2 separate regions of the Homo sapiens genome follow, and region 2 is linked to region 1. Evidence: fine-mapped expression QTL. A gene starts in region 1. The other region holds a variant in brackets. All regions are shown on one strand. Distances are between the middles of the regions. Region 1 holds the start of USO1 (USO1 vesicle transport factor). Region 2 overlaps FAM47E-STBD1 (FAM47E-STBD1 readthrough).

Evidence for each region.
Region 2: its variant is fine-mapped to the expression of USO1 in cerebellar hemisphere (GTEx, PIP above 0.99).

The regions. Positions count from the first base shown.
Region 1 is chr4:75,715,569-75,731,376 of GRCh38, forward strand. It overlaps USO1 (USO1 vesicle transport factor), which reads left to right and starts at 9,009. Exons shown (of 24, transcript NM_003715.4): 1 at 9,009-9,317. The coding sequence starts at 9,252. It also overlaps a transcript of G3BP2 not described here. RefSeq lists enhancers at 554-1,069, 8,199-9,119, 9,120-10,039, 9,136-9,215 and silencers at 8,796-8,965, 9,300-9,477.
Region 2 is chr4:76,282,124-76,297,931 of GRCh38, forward strand. All of the region lies in intron 6 of FAM47E-STBD1 (FAM47E-STBD1 readthrough), which reads left to right. It overlaps FAM47E (family with sequence similarity 47 member E), which reads left to right. Exons shown (of 8, transcript NM_001136570.3): 8 at 1,258-1,660. The coding sequence ends at 1,335. Among named protein-coding and RNA genes, the nearest start is that of STBD1, 17 kb to the right of the region's middle. The variant G/A (reference allele first, on the strand shown) is at 9,010.

The sequences.
Region 1 (15,808 bases):
TTCCCAGGTTGTCAGAAAAAAATCAAAACTGCTGCACCAGGAAGGCCTAGCCTCTGGCCAGAGCTAAGCAGCTATCCAGAGGCTGAGGCTCAAAAAGCTTCATGCAACAGAGTTAAAGGTGCAGGAAAGAAGACACTGAAAGCTAATCAACCCATCAGCCATGCCCCGGGGCTTTTCTGAAGTTGATAGCAATCACTAATATATGTTAAAATGAAATGTGTTAAATACTTCCTTTCACTGATTGGTTTTAAATGGGACAAATTACGAACTTTTTAAAAAACAAAGATCCTGGTATTTATTACACCATAAATACCAAAATACCAGTATAGTCATTTTTCTCTGACCCAGATACTAGAACGAGACCTAGATAGCAGCACCCTCACATGAAGGAGACCGGCTGCTGCAATAACCTATACAGACCTTAGATTCTGAGCTTTTTAGGAGTCAATACTCACATACTTGGGAAAGAGAGAGCACATCTAGGACTAGGGTCTAGGTCACTTTGGGTCACAGACTTTGTGCCCCTGTCCTGAAAAGGTCATGTGTGTAGGTATTGGAGGTGGGGAGAGGGCAGTGGGAAGGGCAAGTTGGAGCTTTTCTAGTTCTTTTTTTTCCCCTGGAGACACAGTATTGCTCTGTCACTCAGGCTGGAGTGCAGTGGTGCAATCTCAGCTCACTGCAACCTCCGCCTCACAGGTTCAAGAGATTCTTGTGTCTCGGCCTCCCAAGTAGCTAGGATTACAGGCACGTGCCATGATGCCCAGCCAGCTAATTTTTTGTATTTTTAGTAGAGATGAGGTTTCACCATGTTGGCCAGGCTAGTCTCAAACTCTTGAGCTCAGGTGATCTGCCCACCTCAGCCTCCCAAAGTGCTGGAATTACAGGCGTGAGCCACCACACCCGGCCCTCTTCTAGTTCTTGTTTTTTTTTGTTTTTCTTTGTTTTGTTTTTGTTGTTGTTTTTGGAGACAGAGTTTCCCTCTTGTCACCCAGGCTGGAGTGCAGTGGCGCGATCTCGGCTCACCGCAACCTCCGCCTCCCAGGTTCAAGCGATTCTCCTGCCTCAGCCTCCCGAATAGCTGGGATTACAGGCATGCACCACCATGCCCAGCTAATTTTGTATTTTTAGTAGACACGGGGTTTCTCCATGTTGGTCAGGCTGGTCTCGAACTCCCAATCTCAGGTGATCCACCCGCCTTGGCCTCCCAAAGTGCTGGGATTACAGGCGTGAGCCACTGTGCCCGGCCTCTTCTAGTTCTTTATACCACCCACAACTAGTATGGTGTTTGTGCGATCCTGTAAGGAAGCATCAGGGGACAGAGGCCAAACAGAAGACTTCTCTTCTTTGCCTCTTTGTACTTACAATCTTCTCATCTTCCATCCCTCTGCCCATGGACTCCTAAGCTACTGGCAGAAAATTATGTCCACACCCAACTACCTCTCCTTTTCCCAAACCACCTGCCTATGCCAGTTCTGGACCCTCCACATAACATCTGCAGGTTACTGAGCCCATCCTGATTATCTCCCTAGTGTATTTGTCAATCACAGGCCATTGGCATCTTAAAGTCAACTTCATTAAAAAACTGGAATTATGGCCGGGCATGGTGACTCATGCCTGTAATCTCAGCACTTTGGGAGGTTGAGGCGGGTGGGTCTCCAGGAGTTTGAGAGCAGCCTGGGCAAGACGGTGAAACCCCATCTCTACAATAAAATAAAATAAAAATTAGCTGGGTGTGGTAGTGCACACCTGTAGTCCCAGCTACGCAGGAGGCTGAGATGGGAGGATCGCTTGAGCCTGGGAGAAGGGGGTTGCAGAGAGGGGACCTTGGAAGTGTGGGCTGACTTTGGAAAGTTTTGGTCCAGGTCAGCTACCATCTGCTGGCCTGGAGGCCCAGTCTGATCTCAAGAGACAACTCTGTCACTCCCTCCTGCCACAAATACTTGCTTGGGGCATAGCCTCAGGCAAATGACAGAGATCAGCTGCCAACTACTCTAAAATCATAGCTTGCTGGGAAGTTGGCAATGACTCCATTAAAATCATCTTAAGCTTACATGGAATCTTGGCATCACCCAATGCGAACTTCAAAGGCTTTGGTCTAGCTATTGAATGGGACAGTAAAGACTGCAACCCTACCCTGGCTATTCAGGACATACTTGTTCAGCTGGCTTGAGGTGTTGGGGGAGAGACAATGGTGTTGGGAGGTAACAGTCAAATTCTCCACAAGAAACAGTGCTAGGGCCTGGATCTGATAAACTTGTCCCTCGATAAACAGTTTTATAAAAAGTCCTTTGGCCAGGCGTGGTGGCTCATGCCTGTAATCCCAGCACTTTGGGAGGCTGAGGCGGGTGGGTCACGAGGTAAGGAGATCAAGACCATCCTGGCCAACATGGTGAAACCCCGTCTCTACTAAAAATACAAAAATTAGCTGGGTGTGCTGGCACGCACCTATAATCCCAGCTACTTGGGAGGCTGAGGCAGAATAGCTTGAACCTGGGAGGCAGAGATTGTAGTGAGCCAAGGTAGCATCACTGCACTCCAGCCTGGAGACAGAATGAGACTCCGTCGCAAAAAAAAAATTACAAATAAAATAAATAAATAAATAAAAATAAAAAGTCCTTTGGAAATGAAAATGGGATTTCCTAATTTAGGTGTTTCTTCTTTCTTTCTTTCTTTTTTTTTTTTAGGTGTTTCATAAGTAATTCTGCTTATTGTATTTTCTTAAAAATGGAAACACACCTGGGTTATACTTTCTTTAAAAAAAGGGTATAGATTTGCTTGCTGATTTAAGTACAATGCAATGTCAAATTACGTTTATTAAATAATGTAACATGATCTTTTGAATCTTTGCAGAGAGGCAGAACTTATGCTAGCATACACTAGTGATAAGGCTGGAAAAATAATTTCAAAAAAAACTGGCAAGCAGTTTAAGTACGTTAGGGGATACAGTGAGCATGTATTGTTTTTCTTATCCTGATAAACATTCTCCTGGCATACTATTCCAGATTTCCTAGGAGAAATGTGAATGTCCCTGTTCCCCAGCTCCTATGCCATATGCTTTGAGATGAGATGAAGACTTCTACTCCTTGCTTTAGAGGTGGGAATGTGACTCAAGGCCAATCAGAACATCTCAAACCTTAAACTACAGGAATTAGCTCACCACATAGGCATGCGACCCTATCAGGTAAAATGAGTCACAAGGAGACTTTTGCTGGGACTCTTAGGAGAGAGGTTGGGAGTCTTTGATGAACTTGGGCCTAGGATACTAGGACTATAGGTCCTGGCAGCCATCTTGCCCCGCATGGAGCTAGAGAAAAAAAAACAAAAACAGTTAAGGAGAGCAGAGTCCAGAAATAGTGAAAACCCAGATAACAGGGAAATTGGCTTGATACCCCAGATTAAGCCTCATCTGAAGTAACAGACTTCTCAGTAACATGAGCTAGTAGGGCTGGAGTTGAAGACTTACAGGGTAATATCTTTAAACGTTCAGTTGTTAAGAAATTGATAATACCGTGGCTCACGCCTGTAATCCCAGCACTTTGGGAGGCCGAGGCGGGCGGATCACGAGGTCAGGAGATCGAGACCATCCCGGCTAAAACGGTGAAACCCCGTCTCTACTAAAAATACAAAAAATTAGCCGGGCTTAGTGGCGGGCGCCTGTAGTCCCAGCTACTTGGGAGGCTGAGGCAGGAGAATGGTGTGAACCCGGGAGGCGGAGCTTGCAGTGAGCCGAGATCCCGCCACTGCACTCCAGCCTGGGCGACAGAGCAAGACTCCGTCTCAAAAAAAAAAAAAAAAAAAAGAAATTGATAATACCGAAGATGATCAGGGTCTCCACTCTAATCATTATTGAGTACTTACTATGTTTCAAGTACTAAGTAATATGAACGTTACAGATATTATCTAATAAAATCCCAAAAACAACCACAGGAGGCAACAATTACCATTCCTTTAAAAAAAAGTAAAGCAGGAACTCTGGGCTCTATAGCATGTGAGACACCTCAACTATTCCAAGTCCTTACCTTGGTCTCATTTCTTTTTTGAGACGGAGTTTCGCTCTTGTTGCGCAGGCTGGAGGGCAATGGCAAGATCCTGGCTCACTGCAACCTCCGCCTCCCAGTTTAAGCGATTCTCCTGCCTCAGCCTCCCGAGTAGCTAGGATTACAGGCATGCACCACCACGCTCGGCTAATTCTGTATTTTTAGTAGAGACGGGATTTCTCCATGTTGGTCAGGCTGGTCTCAAGCTCCCGACCTCAGGTGATCCACCCGCCTCGGCCTCCCAAAGTGCTGGGATTACAAGGGTGAGTTACCGTGCCCGGCCTGGTCTCATTTCTTATCTCCTGAGAGAGGTAGCTGTCCAACATTTTAGCCTCTGAATCTTTTTGTTCAAGCGAAACAGGAAGTATAAACAAATGAAACCAATCAAATGGAGCAGGATGGGGGGGCCCAGAACCCTTTTTTTTTTTTGAGAAAGGGTCTCACTCCGTCACCTGGGCTGGAGTGCAGTGGCACAATCTTGACTCACTGCAACTTCAAGCAATTCTCATGCCTCAGCCTCCTGCGCATAGCTGGAATGATAGGCCACCACGCCCAGCTACCAAAACCTTCTTTCTTGGACTCTCCTCTCCCAAGGATTTCCTAAGGCTTTTAAAAATATTTTGAGGGCGCCGGGCGCGGTGGCTCATGCCTGTAATCCCAGCACTCTGGGAGGCCGAGGCGGGCGGATCACGAGATGAGGAGATCGAGACCACGGAGAAACTCCGTCTCTACCAAAAATACAAAAAATTAGCCGGGCGCGGTGGCGGGCGCCTGTAGTCCCAGCTACTCCAGAGGCTGAGGCAGGAGAATGGCATGAACCCAGGAGGCAGAGCTTGCAGTGAGCTGAGATCGCGTCACTGCACTCCAGCCTGGGCAACAGAGCGAGACTCCGTCTCAAAAAAAAAAAAAAAAATATTTTGAGGGCTAGGCGCGGTGGCTCACGCACTTTGAGAGGCTGAGGCAGGCGGATCATAAGGTCAGGAGATCGAGGCCATCCTAACTAACACGGTGAAAACCTGTCTCTACTAAAAATACAAAAAATTAGCCAGGCATGGTGGCATGTGCCTCTATTCCCAGCTACTTGGAAGGCTGAGGCAGGAGAATCGCTTGAACCCGGGAGGCCGAGGTTGCAGTGAGCCGAGATCGCGCCACTACACTCCAGCCTGGGTGACAGAGCGAGGCTCCATCTCAAAATAAATAAATAAATAAATAAATAAATAAATAAATAAATAAATAAAAATATTTTGAAGCCTGGGGCAGTTGGCTCACACCTGCAATCCCAGTATTTTGGGAGGCTGAGGCAGGAGAATAGCTTGAGGCCGGGAGTTTGACATCAGTCTGGGTAACATAGCAAGACTTCATCTCTACAAAAAAAAAAAAAAAAAAAAAATTAGCCAGGCATGATGGTGTGCACCTGTAGTCCTAGCTACTCAGGAGGCTGAGGCAGGAAGAGCTCTTGAACCCAGGAGTTCCAGGATGTATGTGCCACCACGCCGAGCTAATTTTGTATTTTTAGTAGACAACGGGGTTTCTCCATGTTGGTCAGGCTGGTCTGGAACTCCCAACTTCAGGTGATCCGTCCACCTCAGCCTCCCAAAGTGCTGGGATTACAGGCGTGAGCCACCTCGCCCAGCCTCAACTAGTCTTTTTTTTTTTTTTTTGGGACAGGGTCTCACTCCATCCTCCCAGCTGGAATGCAGTGGCACAATCATGGCTCAATGCAGCCTTGATCTCCCAGGCTCCAGCGATCCTCCCACACCCTCCCAAGTAAGTGGGACTACTGGCTGGGAATACAGGCGCATGCCACCATGCTCAGCTAATATTTTATTTTTTGTAGAGACAGGGTTTTGCCACATTGCCCAGGCTGGTGTTGAACTCCTGAGCTTAAATGATCCTCCCACCTTGGCCTCCCAAAGTGCTGGGATTATAGCCATGAGCTACGTCTTTAAAAACCTATATACGATACTGAAGGGGCTTATAACCTACCAAAATAATAAATAAATAAAAACCTATATATGATAGATTTCAAATACAAATGATCATTTATATTTATCCTCCCAAGCAGGCATAGACAACATTCCACCTTACTACCACCCCAACTAAAAAACAATCTTATGCAATTATATTTCGTTGTTTTTGCGAGTTTTCCACTAGAAAGTTAAGTGGGCCACTGAAAAAAGCAATTTGAAAAAATGAATTTCAAACCAATGAATTTTGTTCGTTGATCTATTGTCAGGTTTGGTTTAGAAAAAGATCACTCTTAATTTTGATTATATGTATTTTAATGATTCATAGGACTCTTATCCTGAATGCTTAGATTTATGAAAGCCAGAAGTATTAACAGTGCAAGTCAGGCCGTCACAATTTGTTCAAGTTTTCTCTTCCTTTATTAACTCAGGTAGTTCCTGAGCATCTACCATATTAAAGGAATTATACTAGATGATTAAAGGATGCAAACAGGAATACAACACAGTCCCTGACTTTTCTCCCTCTACAAAATCAGTAGAAGTGGATTAATATGTAACTCTTCCTCTGAAATAAGGAGTCTATTTCATGGTTGTTCTGTAGTGACAATGCCTCGGGGATCCCACCTTCATCACCTTTGCACCCAACTGTCCATCACTCCTGTGCAGGGGATGCTGCTGGGGAAGAAAACAGGTCAAATGCAGGGAAAATTCATAGTAAGCTGTTACTACTACACTCACGAAAGTATAGTAACCTACTTTACTCACTGAAGTACAGTAACCTACTGTACCCACCAAAGTTTAAAACAAAACAGGACATTTGACAAGGCTGGTGCCTTTAAACAACTTTGCTAAAATGTCAAGGCACTCTTTTTAATTATTAAATAAGAGGAGTAATAGACATTTGTGGCCCACTCCGTCTATGAGCCTCATTCCTGATGATGGGGTAGAGTGAGTTTCAGGGACAAGGTGAAGTGAGGTTCAGGGAGGGGTGAGGCTTAGGGGCTTAAGTGAAGTTCTTTGCATGCATTTCTTAGTAACAAAAATGCTGAGTAATTTACTGGTTACTTTTTTTAGGCTGCAACAAAATGCTCCCATGGAAAATGTCTACGGTAAAATGTCAAGTGTATAGCTTTAAAGCAGAGGACAATGCTTAGCGCACAGTATTTTTGGCAGTATGACCCCACCATTCTCCAAGTTGCCCAGGCTTAAAATGTTGGCACTAGGAAACACATAGCTTATGATGTCTTCCCTACAATTTCACTTTACAGATTAAAAAAAGGGAACCTCCTCTTAGTATAATATTCATATATTCTTTCAATAATTTATTCATTTATCCATCAATATCACCTTTTATGAGACAGTGGTAAGCAACAGAGATATAAAATGAATAACATAGTCCTGCCCTTAACAGTTTGGTTTAGCAAGCATTTATTCAATGTACACCATATACAGTATCAATAACTGCAAAGTGCTAACATATAGATGTGTACCTACATTTTAGGGAAAGCTTTCAAGAATGATGTCAGAGTTGAGCCTTAAGGAATTAGCAGGAGTTTGCTTGATGAAGAGAAAGGAAGGGAAGGGCATATCCAGGTCTGAGAAAAATGCCCAGAGTATGTGGGGGAGGCAGGAGCTGAAAAAGTAGGCAGGAGCTAAATCATAACAGGCCTGTATGACAAACTAAGGAGTTTGCACTTTATTCTGGACAGAATGGGGAACAACTGGAGGATTTTAAGAGGAATGACATGAACAGATGTTTTGTTGTTGTTAGTCTCACCCAAGGATGGACTGGAGATTGGACTGGAAGGAAGCCAGGGCTGAATGCAGACAAACTAATTAGGAGGCTGTTGCTGTCATCTCAATGAGAAATGATGAGAAGAACATAATCTATGTCACAGGCACAGAGGATGGAGAGCAGAACACCTATTTGAGAAATATTCTATAAATAGAAATGATAGGACATGACTATTGATTGGACATGTGTGGGTGGAAAGCCAGAGTCTAAGATTCTTCCCAGCTTCCTCTGTCTAGCTTAGGCAATTATTTGGACAGTGGTACTACTGAGCACGGCACGCACACAGTAGAAGCAGCATATTGACTTTTTTTCTTTAAGGGAGGCAGGGAAAGATGACGAGTTCAATTTTAAATGCTGAATCTGAGACCTGTGGGGAATCCAAGGGGAGAGGTGCATGAGTCAGTTAGCTAACTAGACCTGTGCTTTTTAGCCTCAAGAAATTTACAAGACTATTCCAGAAGCATGTGTACTGACAACCTCACTGCCAAAGGAACAGGCATACCAATTAGAGAAAATGACAATTTTTCATGTTAAAAAAAAAAAAACTGAAAACACAGGGGTTGAGAGTTAATAACGAAACATTATGTTACTCGCCAAACTGACACAGCAGAACAATGTATTTCTCTAGTAAGCTAAATGTAGGGTTTGATGGGTTTCCTCCTGACGACACTTGAAAATAGAGGTGTACCTGGTGTTTAGATCTAGGAATTCCTTTCAGCAGGTTTGAAGAGCAAGAGCTGAGAAATGCGCCCTCCAGTGGCAGTGGAATGAGGGGTGTCTAGTAACCCTTTTTACCACCAAACAAAGCCCTGTAAAGAAATGCAATTTACCGGGATCAGAAAGCCACAATGCTGGTACCAGTAAACCGTCAAACCAAGCGAACCCTCTCAGGCGCCAGGAAGCCTTACCTGTCACGTTGGCCAAAGGAAAATTTCACTTTCGACTCAACAAAATAAGACCTCAGATTTGATAGCTTGCAGTAAGTCCCGCTTGGCGACGATTAAACACCCTGCAAGTCGAAACGCGTAGTCTAATCAAATCCTCTCCAGCCTGCAGGGCCGGGCTTCCACCACGTGGGTGGCTGCGGCCAGCAGGATCAATCCGCGAAGGGTGGGGGTAGGAGGCGTGCCCCTGCGGTGGGAGGCGGGGTCTGCGCAGTGGGTGGGGCTTCGGCGGAACCTAGCTAAGAGGTTCCTCTCGCCTCCGCTCCCCTTTTGCCTTCAACCTTCGAGCCGCCACGTAATGCCACGTCCCCGCGCATGCGCATCTTGGCCGCTGCTGGCGGCTGTTTCCGGGCTTAGAGGGCTGGAGTGGCCGCCGAGTTGGAGGCGGTGGTGGCAGCAGTAGGAGTGTGTAGAGTGCGGGATTGGGGCCCAGGCCCTGCGGAGGGCGGGGGAAGTTGTCTTCTTTTTTTTCCGGAGGGGCCGGTAAACCTGGTGGCTGAACGGCAAGATGAATTTCCTCCGCGGGGTAATGGGGGGTCAGAGTGCCGGACCCCAGCACACAGAAGCCGAGACGGTGAGAGGAGCAGCGGGTCTGGGACTTGGGAAGGGGTCCGGGCAGGGACGGGGACGGAGCACTCGGAGACCCGAAGGTCACCTCCAGCGTCCCACCATGGAGGGGGCATCCACATGCCGCCTCCCCCTTTGCCCTCCTTCCGCTCCTGAAATCCCAGAGTTATTCAATCACGCCCCCAGCTCAGTCCCCATTGCTGCCGTTCGGCCGGACTGACGGCGGCCGCGCCCCGCAGCTCTGTAGGCCCTGAAGCTCGGGCTAGGAGAGTGGTCCGCAGGTGGTACCGCACGGGAAGGGACGGATGCGCGGCCGAGCTGGCCCGAACTGCCTCCCACGCCCCTCGGGGCCGTGGGCCCCTCCCTCTTTCTCTTTCGCTCGTCTGCACTGGCCGAGAGGAGCCTGAAGTCCTGCTCCCTCCCTCGCAGTCTGAAACTGGGGCGTTGGGGAAAACTGCGAGAAGGTTTAAAACCCAGCTGTTGGTGAGAGCATTTGGCTAAGAATAAAACGATATTCTTTGAAGGACAAATCCACCTGCTCCTGTCCCATCAACTGGAAGAGCGGTCGTTCTGCCTGGTGTTATTTGTTCAGATCCGGCTTTTCGGGCTCACCCAAATATATATCATTTGGCAAATGCTACCTTGAACGTAGTAGGGATCTTAAGCGCTCAAACTGCTTTGGGGACACGTCCACCGCTTTCTGCCTGAACTCCTAATGACATGATTTGCGGCGTTATTTAAAAAAAAAAAAAAATGGTTAGCCGCTGAAAACATTATTTAATAGTTGCTTAGATTCTAGGTTTAGAATACACTTATTTTGAAGTTTGGTTAGTGTTTAATGGAATCGAGGGTGTATGCCTTTTTGAAATAAACTTTTTATTTGAGAAGAATTTTAGATCTACATAAAAGAGACTAAGTATAACACTTTAATGGCTAACTTTGTTAATGGGATCCTGAGGGATAATATAGTAGCTTTCATTTGTCAGGCTCTTACCTTGTGCTAGGTTCTGTGCTGAGCTCTTTATATTCCACATTATGCTTTAATCGTTAACTACCCTGCAAGATAGGTGAGAGTATTCTCACCTTAAAAGTCAAAAAATGAGACTGAGAGGGGTGAAGTAGGCCGGACGCGGTGGCTCACGCCTCTAATCCCAGCACTTTGGGAGGCTGAGGCCGGCGGATCACCTGAGGTCGGGAGTTCGAGACCAGCCTGACCAACATGGAGAAACCCCGTCTCTACTAAAAATACAGAATTAGCCGGCCGTGGTGGCACATGCCTGTAATCCCAGCCACTCGGAAGGCTGAGGCAGGAGAATCGCTTGAACTCGGGAGGCGGAGGTTACGGTGAGCAGAGATCGTGCCATTGCACTCTAGCCTGGGCAACAAGAGCGAAACTCTGTCTCAAAAAAAAAAAAAAAAAAAAGGGGTGAAGTAACTTGACCAATGTCACACTGCTAATAATAGAGCCAGGATTCAACCAAGAGGTACCTTACTTCAAAGCCTTCACTTTATTGCTCATGCCTGTATTTCAATACTTTTTGGGAACTTTATATAGTATTACTAAAATTAACTGCAGCTAGTCGCAGTGACACAGGCCTATAATCCCAGCTAAGGGGATGCTAAGCCAGGAGGATCGCTTGAGCCCAGGAGTTTGAGACTAGCCTGGGCAGCATGAAGAGACTCCATCTCAAAAAAAAAAAAAATAACTGCGCAGGTCTGGTTAGAATTGTTTAAAGCATAAGATGAAAGCCGGTAAATCTGTTTCTTTCATTTGAAAATCACTTTTCTGTCTCTCACTGTAACACACGCACACATTTGGCTTCACTCATCCATTCCCACTTGGCAACAAGGCAGCCTGAGCTACCCTACTAGAAGATCATGTTCTGTCTAGATTACCAGAGTCATACCATAATCACAGCCCACCACTTTTTTGTCTGATATTTGTGTTTGTGGCACCAGGTTATGAAATATGGTTTATTACAGCTTGCTTTGTGGAGTTAGACTTTGATTTGAATCCTGGCTTTCCACCCCTGATTGGATTGGATATGTAAGAGATAGCTAATACCCTCTAAGTAAAATGAGGAAAATGCCTGCTTTTTAGGATGTAATGAAGATTAAGTGAAATAAGTAGAAAGAGCCTGGCACTTAGTAGATGTATAATGAGAGGTAATTTTTACTATGTGTGGGTTGAACGAAGAATACCCTTTCCTGTTTTTGTTATTATTGGCCTTGTCACAGTGACTTCTGTAGAAAAGATGGAATAGAATTCACAGTGTATAGGATTTTAAAGCTAGAAAGTCCCAGATAGAGCCTCTTCATTTTATAGTCACAGAGCACTAAAGTAGCTTGCACAAGGTTGAAGAGTTGGAGCTAGAACATTTTGATCTTGCCACTGTGGATGGAACAACATAGTTTTTATATCACAATTTCAAAGTGAAACTTGAGTATCACTTGCGTATGTTGTATATATAAACTGAAAGGGTCCTTTCTTGTTCTTGCCTAACTTTGAGTATGTACATTTAAAATTGGAAAAGTAATTTGTCTTCTATTTTTTCTTTTTAATCACCTCCACAATAAAGCAATTTGCCTTCTGAAAATTATTATTCTGAGGTACAGTATGAATAAAATTTGTTTCACTATTTCGTTCCACCAGGAAGTACAACAGGTAAAAGGGGTCATGGATTACTAATTTAGAAGTATTTATAGAGCATCAGTGGAGTGTATATACAATTTTAGATGTTTTAATTGATGATTTAGTCTGGCCAGGATATTTGAGTTACCAGAGCTTGGAACCCCTAGCTTCTATATTATCATTTATTATTTTGTAGTTTTTTCCATTTCTGCAAAATTAAATTTTTTTCATGGTGGCTTTCCATCTTTCTTGCTTTTTCTAACATCTTTTTTCCAATGGAAGGGCTCTTTTCTTTGTCTGAATTAGACCTGTTATTTAAATTCATCATCAGCGCCTCCCCTAATCTGTACTTTCCCCCAGCACGTTTCAGATGCTTTTTCCTTTCTGAGCTACCTTTACATTTTAACTACAGTGTGCATATATCTTATTCCTTCTAGACTCTTAAAGTGTCTTTAGGGCAGGGTTCATAATGTATTTTAATCTTTGTTTTTCCACAGTAGTAGATGCCCAGTAAATACTTGTGAAATGAATTAATTATAGTTTTATTTGAAAGAAATCACAGATCTGTAATTATAGCAACTTACGTTACTAGGTACTAAAACACTTTTTAAAGACTAGAAACTGAAGTTCTCAAATGAAGTTCATTGTGTCAAGCTTTTTACTTAAGGGATTTTTTCATATTTACTAAATGCTTTGACTGCTTTCTTGTTTTTTTTTTTCTTATTGAATTTAAGTATCTTTTAAATGTGTGAGAGTTATGTGATTGATTGTATAGTATCTAGCTTTTCATACTCTTAGTTAAGAGTAACTTTGGACTGATATTAAGATGTTCTTCAGGCCGGGGGCTCACGCCTATAATCCCAGCACTTTGGGAGGCCAAGGCAGATGGAGCACTTGAGGTCAGGAGTTTGAGACCAGCCTGGCCAAACTCCTTTCTGGAGTCAAGCACATTTTTATGGTGAAACCCTGTCTCTACTAAAAATACAAAAATTAGCTGGGCATGGTGGCACATGCCTATAATCTCAGCTACTCAGGAGGCTGAGGCAGGAGAATCGAGGCGGTGGTTGGCAGTGAGCAACCACTGAGTGGTTAAGATTGTGCCACTGCATTCCAGCCTGGGCGAGAGAGCGAGACTGTCTCAAAAAGAAAGATGTTCTTGAGAACCTGTCAAGTAGTAAATATTTTATCATAGGATAGTCAATTCTATAAAGTACTGGATATTTTAAATTCAGAATTTCATCCACATTAAACTTTTTCTGTTTTAGAGTCATGTACTTTTGTTTTTGTTTTTGTTTTGTTTTGTTTTGAGACAGAGTCTCGCTCTGTGGCCCAGGCTGGAGTGCAGTGGCGCAATCTTGGCTCACTGCAAGCTCCCCCTCCCGGGTTCACGCCATTCTTCTGCCTCAGCCTCCCAAGTAGCTGGGACTACAGGTGTCTGCCACCACACCGGCTAATTTTTGTATTTTTAGTGGAGATGGGGTTTCACCGTGTTAACCAGGATGGTCTCGATCTCCTGACTTCGTGATCCGCCTGCCTTGGCCTCCCAAAGTGCTGGAATTACAGGTGTGAGCCACGGCACCTGGCCCCAGAGTCGGGTACTTTTACATTTCATTTCTCTTTTTTACTTGACACTGATTTCTGGTGATTGAAGCCTCTTTAGCCTTGACACAGTTTGCTGGGTGCATATTATTATAGTACAAATCCTACTCATGCTTTTGTTTTTTAGTTTTCTCTTTTTCCCTAACCACTAGACCACCAGGGACTTCATGCTTTTGAATGTAAGCTTATGTGTGCTTAGTGTTATATCTGCCTTCTATCTAGCACCTTTTTTTTGGGTAGGGGGGTGGGGTACGAAGTCTCGCTCTGTCGCCCAGGCTGGAGTGCAGTGACGTAATCTCGGCTCACTGCAGCCTCCGCCTCCTGGGTTCAAGCAGTTCTCCTGGCTCAGTCTCCCGAGCAGCTGGGACTACAGGTGCACGCCACCACGCCAGGCTAATTTTTTTGTATTTTAGTAGAGACAGGGTTGCACTGTGATGCCCAGGCTGGTCTTGAACTCCTGAGCTCAGGCAGTCTGCCCGCCTCGGCCTCTCAAAGTGCTAGGATTATAGGCGTGAGCCACTGCGCCCAGCCCCCAACTTGTACCTTTTTTAAAGCTAGTTTCTTGAAAATTCCAAGCAAGTGTTAACTACATTTGATGATGAATCATAGAGGCATTTTCTGTTCTCAAGTTGGACCCCGAGACATGAAAGTTGCTAATGTCCAGAAAAAGCATACAGAATTAGAACATTGTTATGGGGTCTCTTTCCAGATCAAACTTTCATCAGCTGTCTCAGAAAGCAGAAGGGCTAACAATATAAACACAGCCATATTTTCTTTTAATAAAAATTGTTATTAAAGAGTGTGGACTTAAATTTAGACATAGTTTTCGTTTAGTCAAGCACATTTTATACCATGTTACTATAAATGTGTAGTCTGAAATTCCTATTTGGGTTGATGTATTCTACATTAATAACCAGGTCAATGTCATAACTGGAATGTGTTTTCTCTCTTGGCCTGTTTTGCAATAACAATGTCGGAGAGAACTGTAATAATGATTTGTGTTTTGGTCATTTCTATATCGAAGCACTCTTTTTAAGTAGGGCCTATTGAATACTACATGGCTTTTTGGAAGGTTAATTTTGTAGATTATATAGGGTTCATTTAAAAGTTAGAATCATTTAAATTATACATGCCGTAGCATTACCAAGGTATGCTTCAAAAAATTTGAATAGATGTCCATGAAAAAAATTTTGTCAGCAAAGAAGTGTGTGCAACGACCACTAACAAAGAAAAAACCTCTAGTATTTATGCAAGGTTTTGTAAGCAGGCACTGTGTTATAGTTTCAGATATTTTTAAAATGTAGATAAAAAGTAAGCTGTTTGCCAAATTTATCTGACCAGACCTTTTTTTTTCCTCTAGGGAACTTTGTTATCTATTATTTTGAGAAGCATACTTAGGGAAAAATTGTCCAAGAGGATATATAATTCTGATGCCTTTTTCTTTATTTTCCTTTATTTCATTAAAAACATTACTCTTGAATCTGATTAGGAAAGAATATTAGAATTCCTTATATACATTTGTTGATACCAAATACTGTTCCTCTTTCTTTTTATGTATTTACCTTTTATTATTAATATTACTGCTTTGTACTCTGCTTTTTGTCTGTTGTAGGTATAGTAAAGTTATGCTTATTATTTTTATACCTCAAGCAGAAGTGCCATAAACATTTTTTGTGTCAAAAGTTATTCACCATTAATTTGAAAACTTTTTTTTTTTTTTAAAGAGACAGGCTCACAATATGTTGCCCAGGCTGGTCTTGAACTCCTGGCCTCAAACAATCCTCCTGTCAGCTTCCCAAAGTGCTGGGATTACAGAAAAACTTTTGTGGTGTTAGATTTTGAGATGCTAGCATTTGTGATAGGTTATTTGGTAGACATGTTTCATTATGACCCCTTGCTTAAAACGATGTCCTTTTGAAAAGCATAGTTCATTTATGGGAAAGAGCATGGAGAATAAATGAAGCAGTATATTACTTGGCTGACTTAAGGTAACTATAATGGAAATGGATTCATTGGATTTGTCTACAAAGAGACTTGTGTTTGATTTTTTAATGTTCCCACATCTCTTTTTATAGATTATAATAATTTAGGTCATATGAAGATAAGATTTGCTTTTGCTGTTTTAATAAAGTCTTCTCAGTAACAGAGTTAAATTTAAAACAAATTTCTGGGCCAGGCCTGGTGGCTCACGCCTGTAATCCCAGCACTTTGGTAGGCTGAGGCGGGTGGATCACCTGAGGTCAGGAGTTTGAGACCAGCCTGGCCAA
Region 2 (15,808 bases), 570 kb after region 1:
TAATTTCTAACAGAATCTTAAAATAGAAACACAATCTTTCCATAACCTATGATTAGCAAGATATTAATCAACAGTAACAGTTGCCACAAAAGCTGGTTACAAACAATCCATGGAAACAGGAGGTGAAGCTAGACAACCAGTTAGACCAGAAATTCTCAGAAGGGAGTATGCCTTAACCCTAAAGAGGCCTAGAAGAGCTGTGGCAAGATGAGGGCATTTATAGCCCTATCTTATCCATATGGACAGGCGCCCCCCATGTGTCCGTTTATAGGCTTTCCACAAGGGTCGCATTCCATTCCCAGAGCTATGAACATCTGCTTTTCTGGGATAGGAATGTTGGTGATGTGCAACCTCCCTGACTGCACGTCCGTTCATAGGCTGTCTGCAGGGGGAAGCACATCATGCGCTGTTGGCTCGTTCTGGCAGCCCAACCTGGCATTGTCTTTACACAATCCTGCATGCAATTTTGTATTTACAATAATCAGGAGCATTTCATCTTTTATTCCGTAGCAATAGTTTCAGGGGGTCTCCCTACATCTGGCTGTCCTCTTTTCAGTCACATTGACTAGAGAAATGATGCCCCTGGTCACAACAGAGTCCTCTGAGAACACCTGTCACTCAAAACCCTACAATATTTTGTCCCTTTATTCTTACATCCTATATTCTTATTTTATCAATAAGATTTCAACTGAAGGAGAGAAGGGGCTCTATCACAGGGAATAAGATATATATGCATATACACACACACAGTATATAAATATATGTGTGTGTATGTGTGTGTGTGTATACACAGTTATTATTTACTTAAATCTATATGTGAACATTCATTCTTTTTTTTAACCTCCTGTGTACATTCACATATGTTATGTGAACATATGCACTTACCTACACATTCCAGTATCTGCTGCTGGATTAACTACTTGATGCATCACCCACAGCCTCATTCCCTCTGCTGCACGGATGGATCCCAAGCCTTAGTAGCAGGGATGGGCAGCACAAGGCTATGTTGAGCTGGGCTGGGCCAGACTTGGGCACAGAACAAGTGTGAATTCCATCTGAGTGTTTCTGATACTGTGTGACTACCTTCCAAAGACCAACATCTATCATGGTCAGATTATTAACATGTGATTTTGCATAGTGTAAGGATATATATTAGAGTGTGAAATTTTGAGTTAGATATGGTAGTGGTTGTGGGGAGGACTGTACTGTGCAAGTTTTGTTTGCCAATCTAATGAAGGTTCTCTCATTTTTTTTTAGTTCCTTGAGAATATGTATATCGGGAAGGAATGTAAACGTGCATGTAATAAGACTCCTATAAAACGAACTCAAGCATAGAAGAATCGTAGGAGAATGATTAGGCAGATTTTATTACTACGTACTTGGCTATTTCTCTGTCTCCTTTTAAAGATTAAACAGAGTTTATGATGAGTGTCCCACTGTGGATGTTCAACTTTGACTTGGCAACATCTGTAAATGTAATACCTGATGGTTATAAGCATTTCTCAATGGATTTCTGCTTCAGTTAATCAACATTTTGTATACTTTATCACCCATGAGATCAATATTCACATGTAATCTTCTCATATTTTTGTGGCACGTGAATATTATATAGGTATATCAACTATTGGTAAAAATAAATAAAGGCATAAATAAAAACAGACTTACTCTATTGCCTTTTTCCCAGGTTTTTCCCCTGGTATTGAATGAGTACCTCCTTTCCTCTTCCTTTACAATATTATTTTCTTTCATTTTGAATTAAATTTACTGAGATATTTTTTCCTTTTGTCCGCATTGCCATGGGTGGATATGGTCTGTTTGGCCCCGCTAAATCTTATGTTGCAGCTTGATCCCCAGTGTTGGACATGGGGGCTGGTTTGAGATGTTTGAGTCATGGGGGTGGATCCCTCGTGAATGGCTTGGTGCCATTCTCACAGGAGTGAGTGAATTCTCACTCTTAGTTCCTGTGAGAACTGGTTATTGTAAAGAGCCTGGCTCCTCCTCCTCTCTCTTGCTTGTTCTCTCACCATGTGATGTCTGCACATGCTAGCTCCCCTTTGCCTTTTGCCACGAGTGGAAGAATCCTGAAGCCCTCACCAGAAGCAGATGCTGGCACCATGCTTCTTGTACACCCTGTAGAGCTATGAGCCAAATAAATTTCTTTTCTTAAAAATTACCCAGCCTCAGGTATTCCTTTGTAGCAACACAAATGGACTAAGACAGGCATGTTAGTGTTGATAATAAATGTGTATCTATAACATAAGGTCATAGGTCAGAAGGTTTAATGGAAACTCAAGATGACATGTATTTTAATTACCTTTTAAAAATTATATTTTATTTTAAAATGTTAATACTCTCTGGGTGTGACCACTCACTCCTATAATCCCAGTGCTTTGGGAGGTCAAGTCAGGAGGATGGCTTGAATCCAGTAGTTCAAGGCTGCAGTGAGCTATAATCATGCCAGTGCCCTTTTGCCTAGGTGACAGAGTGAGATCCTGTCTCTAAAAAAAAGTTAATGCTCATATTAGGAAAATCAGAAAACATAGACTAGCAAAAAGAACATAGAAAATACTAATTCTTCCTATAGAGTTAGCAGTAACTGCTCTTTGCTCATTGGAATGTATCCTAGATTTTTTTCTATGAAACATATAGGGAATAATTTAATCAAAAAAGGATTTATTGAAAGGAAATTATTTATTAAAAACATATTCTGTCCACAGAGTATCTTTTTTTTTAACTTTTACTTTAAGTTCCGGGATACATGTGCAGAATGTTCAGGTTTGTTACATTAGGTATACATGTGTCATGGTGGTTTGCTGCACCTATCAACCTGTCATCTAGGTTTTAAGCCCTGCATGCATTAGGTATTTGTCCTAATGCCCTCCCTCCCCTTGCCCTCCACCCTCTGGCTGGCCCCTGTGTATGATGTTCCCCTCCCTGTGTCCATGTGTTCTCATTATTCAACTCCCACTCATGAGTGAGAACATGTGGTGGTTGGTTTTCTGTTCCTGTGTTAGTTTGCTGAGGACGATGGTTTCCAGCTTCATCCATGTCCCTGCAAAGGATGTGAACTCATTCTTTTTTATGCTGCATAGTATATGTGCCACATTTTCTTTAATCCAGTCTATCATTGATGGGCATTTGGGTTGGTTCCAAGTCTTTGCTATTGTAAATAGTGTTTCAACAAACATACATGTGCTAGAATGATTTATAATCCTTTGGGTGTATACCCAGTAATAGGATTGCTGGGTCAAATGGTACTTCTGGTTCTAGATCCTTGAGGAATCACCACACTGTCTTCCACAATGGTTGAACTAATTTACACTCCCATCAACAGTGTAAAAGCATTCCTATTTCTCCACATCCTCTCCAGCATCTGTTGTTTCCAGACTTTTTAATGATCGCCATTTTAACTGGCATGAGATGGTATCTCATTGTGGTTTTGATTTGCATTTCTCTAATGACCAGTGATGATGAGCTTTTTTTCATATGTTTGTTGGCCACATAAATGTTTTCTTTTGAGAAGTGTCTGATCATATCCTATACCCACTTTTTGATGGGGTTGTTTGTGTTTTATTTTGTAAATTTGTTTAAGTTCCTTGTAGATTCTGGATATTAGGCTTTTGTCAGATGGATAGATTGCAAAAATTTTCTCCCATTCTGTAGGTTACCTGTTCATGCTGATGATAGTTTCCTTTGCTGAGCAGAAGCTCTTTAGTTTAATTAGATCACATTTGTCAATTTTGGCTTTTGTTGCAATTGCTTTTGGTGTTTTAGTCATGAAGTCTTAGTCCATGCCTATGTCCTGAATGGTATTGCCTAGGTTTTCTTCTAGAGTTTTTATGGTTTTAGGTTTTATGTTTAAGTCTTTAATCCATCGTGAGTTAATTTTTATATAAGGTGTAAAGAAGAGGTCCAGTTTCTGTTTTCTGCATATGGCTAGCCCATTTTCCTAGCACCGTTTATTAAATAGGGAATCCTTTCCCCATTGCTTGTTTCTGTCAGGTTTGTCAAAGATCAGATGGTTGTAGATGTGTGATGTTATTTCTGAGGCCTCTGTCCTGTTCCATTGGTCTATCTGTCTTTTTGGTACCAGTACCATGCTGTTTTGTTTACTGTAGCCTTGAAGTATAGTTTGAAGTCAGGTAGCATGATCCCTCCAGCTTTGTTCTTTTTGCTTAAGATTATCTTGGCTATATGGGCTCTTTTTTGGTTCCATATGAAATTTAAAGTAGCTTTTTCTAGTTCTATGAAGAAAGTCAATGATAGCTTGATGGGAATAGCATTGAATCTATAAATTGCTTTGGACAGTTATGGCCATTTTCACAATATTGATTCTTCCTCTCCATGAGCATGGAATGTTTTTCCATTTGTTTGTGTCCTCTCTTATTTCCTTGAGCAGTGGTTTGTAGTTCTCCTTGAAGAGGTCCTTCACGTCCCTTGTAAGCTGTATTCCTAGGTGTTTTATTCTCTTTGTAGCAACTGTGAATGGGAGTTCACTCATGATTTGGCTCTCTGCTTGTCTATTATTTGTGTATAGGAATGCTTGTGATTTTTGCACATTGATTTTGTATCCTGAGACTTTGATGAAGTTGCTTATCAGCTTAAGGAGATTTTGGGGCTGAGGCGATGGGGTTTTCTAAATACACAATCATGTTGTCTGCAAACAGAGACAATTTGACTTCCTCTCTTCCTAATTTAATATTTCTTTCTTTCTTTTGCCTGATTGCCCTGGCCAGAACTTCCAATACTATGTTGAATAGGAGTGGTGAGAGAGGATACCCTTGTCTTGTGCCAGTTTTCAAAGGGAATGCCTCCAGCTCTTGCCGATTCGGTATGATATTGGCTATGTGTTTGTCCTAAATAGCTCTTATTATTTTGTTCCATCAGTACCTAGTTTATTGAGAGTTTTTATCAGGAAGGGGTGTTGAATTTTATTGAGGGCCTTTTCTGCATCTATTAAGATAATCATATGGTTTTTGTCATTTGTTCTGTTTATGTGGTGGATTATGTTTATTGATTCGTGCATATTGAACCAGCCTTGGATCTCAGGGATGAAGCCGACTTGACTGCAGTGGATAAGCTTTTTGATGTGCTGCTGGATTCGGATTGCCAGTATTTTACTAAGGATTTTTGCACTGATGGGCCTTTTTTGGTTGGTAGGCTGTTAATTACTGCCTCAATTTCAGAACTTGTTATTGGTCTATTTAGGGATTCAACTTCTTCCTGGTTTAGTCTTGGGAGGGTGTATGTGTCCAGGTATTTATTCATTTCTTCTAGATTTTCTAGTTTGAGTAGAGTTGTTTATAGTATTATTTGATGGTAGATTGTATTTCTGTGGGATTAGTGGTGATATCCCCTTCATCATTTTTTATTGTGTCTATTTAATTCTTCTCTCTTTTCTTCTTTATTAGTCTGGCTAACAGTCTATCTATTTTGCTAATCTTTTAAAAAAACCAGCTTCTGGATTGTTTGATTTTTTGAAGGGTTTTTCTTGTCTCTATCTCCTTCAGTTCTGCTCTGATCTTAGCTATTTCTTGTCTTCTGCTAGCTTTTGAATTTGTTTGGTCTTGCTTTTCTGGTTCTTTAAATTGTGATGTTAGTGTGTCGATTTTAGACCTTTCCTGCTTTCTGATGTGGGCATTTAGTGCTACAAATTTCCCCTGAACACTGCTTTAGCTGTGTCCTGGAGATTCTGGAACGTTGTATCTTTGTTCTCACTGGTTTCAAAGAACTTCGTTATTTCTGCCTTAATTTTGTCATTTACCAGTAGTCATTCAGGAGCAGGTTGTTCAGTTTCCATGTAGACATGCAGTTTTGAGTGAGTTTCTTAATCCTGAGTTCTAATTTGATTGCACTGTGGTCTGAGTGGATGTTTGTTATGATTCTTCTCCTTTTGCATTTGCTGAGGAGTGTTTTACTTCCAATTATGTGGTCTATTTTAGAGTAAGTGCTATGTGGTGCTGAGATGAATGTACATTCTGTTGATTTGGGGTGGAGAGTTCTGTAGATAGGTCTGTTTAGTCCAGAGTTGAGTTCAAGTCCTGAATATCCTTGTTAATTTTCTATCTCGTTGATCTAATATTGACAGTGAGGTGTTAAAGTCTCCCACTATTATTGTGTGGGAGTGTAAGTCTCTTTGTAGGTCTCTAAGAACTGTTTTTATGAATCTGGGTGTTCCTGTATTGGGTGCATATGTATTTAGGATAATTAGCTCTTCTTGTTGCATTGATCCCTTTACCATTATGTAATGCCCTTCTTTGTCTTTTTTGATCTTTGTTGGTTTAAAGTCTGTTTTATCAGAAACTAGGATTGCAACCCCTGCTTTTTTTTTTTTTTTTTTTTTGCTTTCTATTTGCTTGGTTAATATTCCCCCATCCCTTTATTTTCAGCTTATATGTATCTTTGCATGTGAGATGGGTCTCCTGAATATAGCACACTGATTGGTCTTGACTGTATCCAATTTGCCAGTCGTGCCTTTTATTTGGGGCATTTAGCCCATTTACATTTAAGGTTAATATTGTTATGTGTGAATTTGATCCTGTCATCATGATGTTAGCTGGTTATTTTGCACATTAGTTGATGCAGTTTCTTCATAGTATCACTGATCTTTATATTTTGGTGTGTTTTTGCAGTGGCTGGTAGCAGTTTTTCCTTTCCATGTTTAGTGCTTCCTTCTGGAGCTCTTGTAAGGCAGGCCTGGTGGTGACAAAATCCCTCAGCATTTGCTTGTCTGTAAAGGATTTTATTTCTCCTTCACTTAATGAAACTTAGTTTGGCTGGATATGAAATTCTAGGTTGAAAATTCTTTTGTTTAAGAATGTTGAATATTGGCCCCCACTCTCTTCTGGCTTGTAGGGTTTCTGCAGACAGATCCACTGTTAGTCTGATGGGCTTCCCTTTGTAGGTAACCCGACCTTTGTCTCTGGCTGCCCTTAACATTTTTTCCTTTGTTTCAACCTTGGTGAATCTGACGATTATATGTCTTGGGGTTGCTCTTCTCGAGAGTATCTTAGTGGTGTTCTCTGTATTTCCTGAATTTGAATGTTGGCCTGTCTTGCTAGGTTGGGGAAGTTCTCCTGGATAATATTCTGAAGTGTATTTTCCAACTTGTTTCCTTTCTCCCCATCACTTTCAGGGACCCCAGTCAATCATAGGTTTGGTCTTTTCACATCGTCCCATATTTTGTGGAAGCTTTGCTCATTCCTTTGCATTCTTTTTTCTCTAATCTTGTCTTCATGCTTTATTTCATTAAGCTGGTCTTCAATCTCTGATATCCTTTCTTCTGCTTGATCGATTCGGCTATTGATACTTGTGTATGCTTCACGAAGTTCTCATGCTGTGTTTCTCAGCTCCATCAGGTCATTTATGTTCTTCTCTAAACTTGTTATTCTAGTTAGCAGTTCCTGTAACCTTATGTCAAGGTTCTTAACTTCCTTGCATTGGGATAGAACATGCTCCTTTAGCTCAGGGGCGTTTGTCATTAGCTACTTTCTGAAGCCTACTTCTGTCAATTCGTCAACCTCATTCTCTGTCCAGTTTTGTGCACTTGCTGGAGAGGAGTTGCGATCATTTGGAGAAGAAGAGGCATTCTGGTTTTTGGAATTTTCAGCCTTTTTGCACTGTTTTTTCCTTATCTTCATGGATTTATCTATGTTTGACCGTTGAGGCTGATGACCTTTGAATGAGGTTTCTTGTGTGGGTGTCCTTTTTGTTGATGTTGGTGTTACTGCTTTCTGTTTGTTAGTTTTTCTTCTAACAGTCAGGTCCCTCTGCTGCAGGTCTGCTGGAGTTTGCTGGAGGTCCACTCCAGACCCTATTTGCCTGGGTATCACCAGTGGAGACTGCAGAACAGCAAAGATTGCTGCCTGCTCCTTCTTCTGGAAGCTTCATCCTGGAGGGGCCCCAGCCTGATGCCAGCCAGAGCTCTCCTGTATGAGGTGCCTGTTAACCCTCGTTGGGAATTTTCTCCCAGTCATGAGGCACAGGGATCAGGGACCCACTTGAGGAGGCAGTCTGTCCCTTAGCAGAGCTTGAGTGCCGTGCTGGGAGAATCCTCCTTGTCAGGATCCACTGCTGTCTTCATAGCAGGCAGGCAGGCAGGAACATTTAAGTCCGCTGAAGCTCGCCCACAGCTGCCCCTTCCCCCAGGTGCTCTGTCCCAGGGAGATGGGAGTTTTATTTATAAGCCCCTGACTGGGGCTGCTGTCTTTCTTTCAGAGATGCCCTGCCCAGTGAAGAGGAATCTAGTGAGGGAGTCTGGCCACAGTCACTTTGCTTTGCTTTGTTTGGTTCTACCCAGTCCTTAGCATGGTCAGGGGAAAAGCCACCTACTCAAGCCTCAGTAATGGTGGACGCCCCTACCCCCACCAAGCTTGAGTGTCCCAGGTTGACTTCAGACTGCTGTGCTGGCAGCGAGAATTTTAAGCCAGTGGTTCTTAGCTTGCTGGGCTCCATAGGAGTGGGACCTGCTGAGCGAGACCACTTGGCTCCCTGGCTTCAGTCCTCTTTCCAGGAGAGTGAACAGTTCTGCCTCACTGGGGTACGAAAAAAAAAGTCCTGCAGCTAGCTTGGTGTCTGCCCAAACAGCTGGCCAGTTTTGTGCTTGAAACCCAGGGTCCAGGTGTTGTAGGCACACAAGGGAATCCCCTGGTCTGCAGATTACAAAAACTGTGGGAGAAGCGTAGTATCTGGGCCAGATAGCACAGTCCCTCATGGCTTCCCTTGGCTTGGGGAGGGAGGTCTCCAACCCCTTGCACTTCCCGGGTGAGGCAAGGCCTCACCCTACTTCTGCTCACCCTCCATGGGCCACACCCACTGCCTAACTAGTCCCAATGACACGAACAGGGTACCTCAGTTGGAAATGCAGAAATCACCCGCCTTCTGCGTTGTTCTTGCTGGTAGCTGCAGATAGGAGCTGTTCCTATTCATCTTCCGAGATCCTCTGCTTTTCATCTTGATCCACAGAATATCTTTATGGACAGAGGCTCGGATTTGAGTCTGCCCTCCCAG[G/A]AACAATACCCGAATTCATGCCTCAAAACTGAGCTGGTGAACACATCTCTATTGATGCCCTTGGCGTAGACATGGCAACCAGCACAGAAGTCACCATCATCGGATGCTGGAGTTACCCCCAGGGCCACCTCCACTGCTGTCTTTGAACATAGATGCAACACCAGTGCCAGCACCTTACCCAGCAGCAGCATCCATGCCCAGTGTGGGTTCTGCCTACTCATCTCAGGGTCTCTGATGAGGCACTTGACTGGCGGAGCCAGATCCATGCCTATGAGTGAAGTAGGCAAAGAAAAGTAGTATATGGCATTTCTAGCTCCTACAGTGTAAGGGGACTCTGCCCCCATAGGTCAGGGGGTTCAGGTGCCTCTTAGAATATGGAGTTCAGATGACTAGCCTCTTGAATGCCCAATATCAATATCTACTTTTTTCATAAAGAAAAAAGCATAAGAAACAAACAAACAAAAAAACCTTTTTTCTAATTAATACAACCATCCCTCCTGCAGAAGAGGACACAATCATGTTCTCAAAAGTGATGAGTTCAAAGTTGTATCCATTACTGCATTTGCCTTCAAATACAAAATCCCTGGGGGCTGGCATTTCATCCTCTGGGTCTGTGATGACCTCATCTCAGTAATCTGTATGCTGAACTGACTACATAGTAAATTTGATCACCAATAACACACCCTTTGTGGAGAAAGAGACAAGAGGAAGAAACTTAAAAAAATGGCATATACATGACATGGAAGAAAATGCAGATAGATGCAACAGTGTTCATTTCTACAACTGGTCAAGAGGCCATAGTTCCTATATATAATTTCCCTTCTCCACTTCCCATTTCACATTCTTTTCACCTTTGGCTAGTCCCTTAACTGTTACAAAATATTTAAGAGAGTGACCTAAACCTTTATTCACAAAGCGCCTGAGTCTTGCTGGTCCTGACCAGCCAGGACATTTTTATTAGTAGACATGACAACACTAGGTAGAACTCCAAGGGGTCCTTTGATTTCCATGACTCTACTGTCAATCAGTTTTCACTTGCTGTTGATGATTCATATAGTTCTCTCCTTTTCTTGTTCTTCAGGGATCATGAAGAGTCCATACAATGACCAGGTGGCAGTCTCAGATTCTAATTCAATGGAACTATTATTTTTTTTCTACTGATAGACACCTTGTCTCAAGCTTTTAAATCACCAGAGCCCAGTTCATGGGGCTAAGAAGTAACAGTTTTGCAAGTGGTTCTGAAGGAGGTGCTCCTCCTGATGCTACACCCATGTATGCTGAATATGGGAAAAACAGCATATATTGGTTGCTGGTGCAGAATAAATAATGAATGTTGGTGTGGGCAGAAATTTGTTAGGCAGGGTCAGCAAATCCCAATCCAGAATAAGTTACTATTCCAGTAAAGATAAATTACTGCCCCTTTCATGATAATGGAAGAGGTCTGGGACATTCTTTGAACCCACTCATTCAACGACCATTATGACCTCCTTCTAGCTTGCCTTCCTACTGTAGAGGCTGGAAAACTAATGGCTGCATTTCCCAAACTCTCTTAATGTTTCAACTCATTAAAGTGCCCACATGTTTGGAAGTCCAAGGGAGCACCAAGGGGAGAGCTGATCCTCTGCAAGCCAGTCTGGCTTTCAGGTGCTGAGCAGCAGAGGCTACGGGAAGTGGTAGTCTGGAGGGAATCCACTTCTTTCCCCAGGCACATTGTTCCTGGCTTTGTTCCATTCAAACCTAATTCACATCAGGGACTTTAGTTTTATTTCCTGGACAAATAAATATTTAACAGAAGCAGTGGCCAGATCAGGTTTGATGAGGGAAATCCAAGTTGCTAAACCCCCGTGTAGCCTGTGATTCTGCTACTATGCCTACTTCGCTCATTGGGCAACACTGGAGTGCCTGCAGAAAGGAGAGAGTTGGCATGCAGGAGCCAGGTCAACCTCTTCTCTTGACTATTGAGCACTTCCTCTCCAGTGGGGGCCTTTGGGTGGCATTCACAAAGAACCAAATATCCTCATACTCTGGATTCATTCTCAGAGATCCCATAGATACCTCTTCCTCTGAACATCTTTGTCACCAGACTTGCATTCTTGATCCTTCCATGTCTTGGCTGCTGAGCTACACCGTCAGCTAATGACCATTAACTGGTGATATCTGTGCCTCATACCATTTCTCCTTTCAGACAAAGTGGTCAGCAAGATAAAATGCTTAAAATTCTGCCTTCTGGAAGATTCCTCTTTGTTGATCTTCAGGGTCACCCTCAAGTTGGCCTATAATGTTGCTGTAGTCTACTTGTGGCTGGTGCTGTCATATTGTGCTGGTTGCTGTCTAGTCAGTTGGACTTAGAGAACATACCATGAAGTCAGAGGTGTAGGCTGAGGAAAAAATGGTAATGTGGTAGGAGTGGGAACACCATGCAATTTGTTGTGTCTTCAATTTCTGCTCAAGCCCAATCTTATGTAGGAAACTTTCACTTGATCATAAGAAGCAATACAATTTGGTAATTTAATATGTGTACTTTGAAGCCAGGGGGCCTGTGTTCTAACCAAGTCCTGCCACTTATTAGATATATGACTATGGTCAAATTGCTTTTATCCTCTCTCTGCTTCAATTTTCTCATCTAAAATAGGGATGATTACAATAACAGTACTATTTCCCAGAAATGTGGTGAGGATTAAAGGAAATGTTGCAAGTAAAGTACTTAGAGCAGAGCTTGGCACACTGTGCACACACACTAAATGTTAGCTGACTTTATGGCGTGGTGAATCAGATAGTCCCCAGCTTATGATGAGTGCTAGCCATGAGATTAGGCTGCTGTATTTACCAGTGCTCAGCAACAAGCCAAAATCTGTTTCTCAAAAGGAGAAAAGTTACATGCCACAGAATCCGTGGCTTGGCTGCAAAACTCTCAGAGCCTGTGCTGGATGTTCCAAAGCTCCATTCAGCAGCCCTGTCTGCCACAGGCATTTCAATAACATTGGATCCACTGGATCAGAAGACAGAGCTTCCTGGACCAGTGAGAAAGCATACTCTTGCTTCAGGCTGCACTCAAAATTGGCAACCTCTCAGATTATTAAAAAAACTAGCTGAAACAGCATGTCTAAATCTGGTCTCCAAAATTCAAAGACACACCATTATAGAGTATTTCCAACACCCAGTTATAATACATATAAATAATCTGAGCAGCATAGATAATAATAAAAAGCTGTCAACTAGGAAGTGATGAGTTTGTAATTATCTTTGTTTTTCACATCATTTATTTAACTGTAAGTATATATAATTTGTTTTAATAATGGTTGTGTTTAGCAATCAGCTCACTAAATTCTTGAAAATTTGTCAGTTGACCTTTGTGAGTTGGTACAACCTGTCTCTAGCACCTTATTGACTATAGAATTCAAGGCAATGAGGGATGTTAGGAGCAAAGAATGAAGAGAATTGTTTTCCCCTACCTCCAGTAAGGTTACTCCCACAAAGAATAACATTACAGAGTCTTCATGAAAGATGGAAAAAGCCTCATCATGAAGGGAGATTTTCTCTGACGAGGAAGGCTGCATTAATTCAGGTGTGCCAAGAAGCAATGGCAAGATGGGAATAGATGTTCTTGAGCTTTACTGAAGGAAGGAATGGGAAAAGATAGAGAGAGCTTTAGACTGTGATGCCTGTCTGATATCTGTGGAAGGAATAAGGGAAGGAAAGAAGATTGGTGTAAGAAGAATCTTGGACTGTAGCACAATTCAAATAAAGGTTTCGCCAGTCCAGCAGGAAGTCCTCAAGTTGAAGTTGCCTAGAGGAGGAGTTTCACTTCTTGCCAGAATGGGACTACCTTGGTGCTTCTGGCATGCTCAGTCATTGGTTAGGGGTAGCCCATGAGAAGCATGGCCTCAGTGTGAGGGTGGAGGATCCAGGGAGGCAGCAATTTGGTCCACCAGCCAATGATGCTCTCTGCAGCAGATGATCTGAGTAGCATATTTTCATAGGGTTGGGAGTTTAGGGTACTTGGAGCCCACCGTATCTTCCCATATGTTCCCATTTCAGGATTCAGGGTCTCACTTTTTCCAAACAATGTTCTAGCTTCACATAAGGTATCCTAAAAACCTGTGAATTCAAATGATGTCTTAACTTAGCAAACTAAACAGTCAATTATCTCTCTCTCTCCCAGTTCAACAGTTTCAAGACATATTTCTTTAGAAAATTCCAAAGAGCCCCTGATTTGGGGATTTGTGTTTGTTTTAAAATATGTCCACAAATTGGCCAGGCTGGTGGCTCACACCTGTAATCCCAGCACTTTGGTGTGCCAAAGGCGGGTGGATCATGAGGTCAGGCGATCAAGACCATCCTGGCTAACACGGTGAAACTCCATCTCTACTAAAAAATACAAAAAATTAGCTGGGCATGGTGGCAGGCAACTGTAGTCCCAGCTACTCGGGAGGCTGAGGCAGGAGAATGTCCTGAACCCAGGAGGCAGAGCTTGCAGTGAGCCGAGATAACACCACTGCACTCCAGCCTGGGCGACAGAGCAAGACTCTGTTTCAAAAAAAAAAAAAAAAGTCCACAAATTATTTGATACTTTTTCAAAATGTGGTGTCTAATTCCCTCCACTCAAGTGTAGTTAGTGACTGTAGTTAGTGGGCTGTACTTAGCGACTTGCTTCTAATGAAGACAATGTGGGAAAGGTGATGATGCCTGATTTCTGAGTCCCAATCACATCAGGTGAAATTGTGGCTTCCTTCTTGTTCTCACTTGGATCATCTGCTCTGGGAGTGTCTAGCTGCCATGTTGTGAGGACACTAAAGTTGTCTATGGAGAGGCCCACATAGCAAGGAACTAAAGCCTTCTTCTAGCAGCCATGGGGCAAGCCATCTAGGAAGTGGATCCTCCAGTCCCTAGTAAGTCTTCAGATGAGACTGCAACCCCTGCTGACATCCTGACTGTAGTCTTACGGGAGGTCCTGAGCCAGAACCACAAAGTTGCTCTTGAATTCTTGAATCACAAAAACCACTATAATGTTTGTTGTTTTAAGCCATTAAGCTTAAGATTTATTTGTTAAGCAGTAATAGGTAACTAATATAGATTTTGTTACCTGGAAGTGGAGTGCTGCTATAACAAGAACCTAAAGTGTGGGAGGGAGAAGAACTGGGTAGTGGGGTGGAAGCTGGAAAATTTTGAGAAGACTGTTAGTAAAAGCTTCAAGGGCCTTAAAAACACTGTTAGTAGAAGCCTTTGAGGAGGTGACAGCTTGTAGGAAAATGAGGTAATGTTATTGGAAAGTGGGAGAAACAGTCTCCTTGTTATGAAATAGCAAAAAGTTTAGCCCACATGGAATGTAGAAAAGGCAGCTGATGAGCTGGATGATCTAACGAAGGAGATTTTCATACAGAATGTTGAAGATACTGCCTGGTTTTCATTTGCTGCTTACAGCAAAATGCAAGAAGAAATAGATAAGCTAAAGCAGGACAGCTTAAAAAGAGGAACCAGGATTTTATGGTTTCGAAATGTCTAGCCTCTTGGATAGCAGATAATGTTTAAATTAAGGAATGATATGGGGCAAAGACAAAATCCAGGACATTGCCAGGAAAACATGGTCTAAAGAAGACTCCAAGGATGTAAGGATGTAACTGTTAAATCCTTTGTTAAGACCTCAGAAAGATAAAAGGTGTTGCCTCAGCGTACTGTTCAACTAGACAAAAGGCTCCCTAAAATTTTCTTAGGTGTGCTACAGTTTCTTTTGATCAAACAAATAAAGCTTCTAAGAAGCTGAAGATGTTGTTCTTCACCAGAAGCCCATGGTAGAGAAGGGCTTATCTTGAATTGATTTGTAGATTTGGCTTTTGAAAAATGGCATGGACCCAATAAGAGTCACAGGAAATCTGTAAAGTTTTTCAAAGAATTGTATTGGAATAAAAACTGCCAGCTTGGACTAAAAGGGACAAAGACAGTATGAAATGAAAAGAGGCCTCTGGATCTCCATAGTTCTACTGGCAGAAAGCAGACTGAGAGAACTTCTCAGCTACACATATGTGCTTCCATTATAGAACAGATGACTCAGAGGACATAACCAAGAAAGTGGAAACAAAGGCCATGCAGAATTATTCCTAGTTGAACAAAGTTCTAATTGAGGACCTTCTACAATTTCCTTGGCTGCTTTACAGAATTGCCATGGAGCAGTGACTCCTGTATGCCTCTATTTTTCTCCTATTTTTGGAATATGATTGTATATGGTGATTATATTGTGTCTGTTCTACTATTATATGTTGGGTGATGTTACAGAGGGTGGGGGTGGGAGGGATAGGCATATACCTTTCTGTCTTCAGATTGAAAGGAAATGCATTAGAATAATTGTACTTAGGAAGTACATCTAAGCAGTTTCATCTGTACCTGGGCCTGATTCAGATTCTAACATTCTGGATTCCAAACTGATGCTGTAAAGGGGTTATGGGAGGATTTTGTAAGGGTGGGGCTGTGGGGGTAAGTATATTTTACATATGAAAAGAATGTAAGTAATTTGTGGCTAGAGGACAGATTGGTCTTGTCTTAAAATATGTTCACAAATTCTGTGATACTCTTTCCTTCAAAAGATGAAGCTTGATTCTGCTTTTCTTGAGTGTGGGCTGTGCTTAGTGGCTTATTTCTAAAGAATAGAATGTAGCAGAAGTAGCGATGTGTGATTCCAAAACTAGACTGTAAAAGGCATTGTGTTCCCTCTTTGCTTTCCCTGAGATCACATGCTCTGGTGCAGATTTTCTCAGCCCAGGCAATATTGATGTTTTGGATCGAATTTTTCTTATTATTCTTTGTT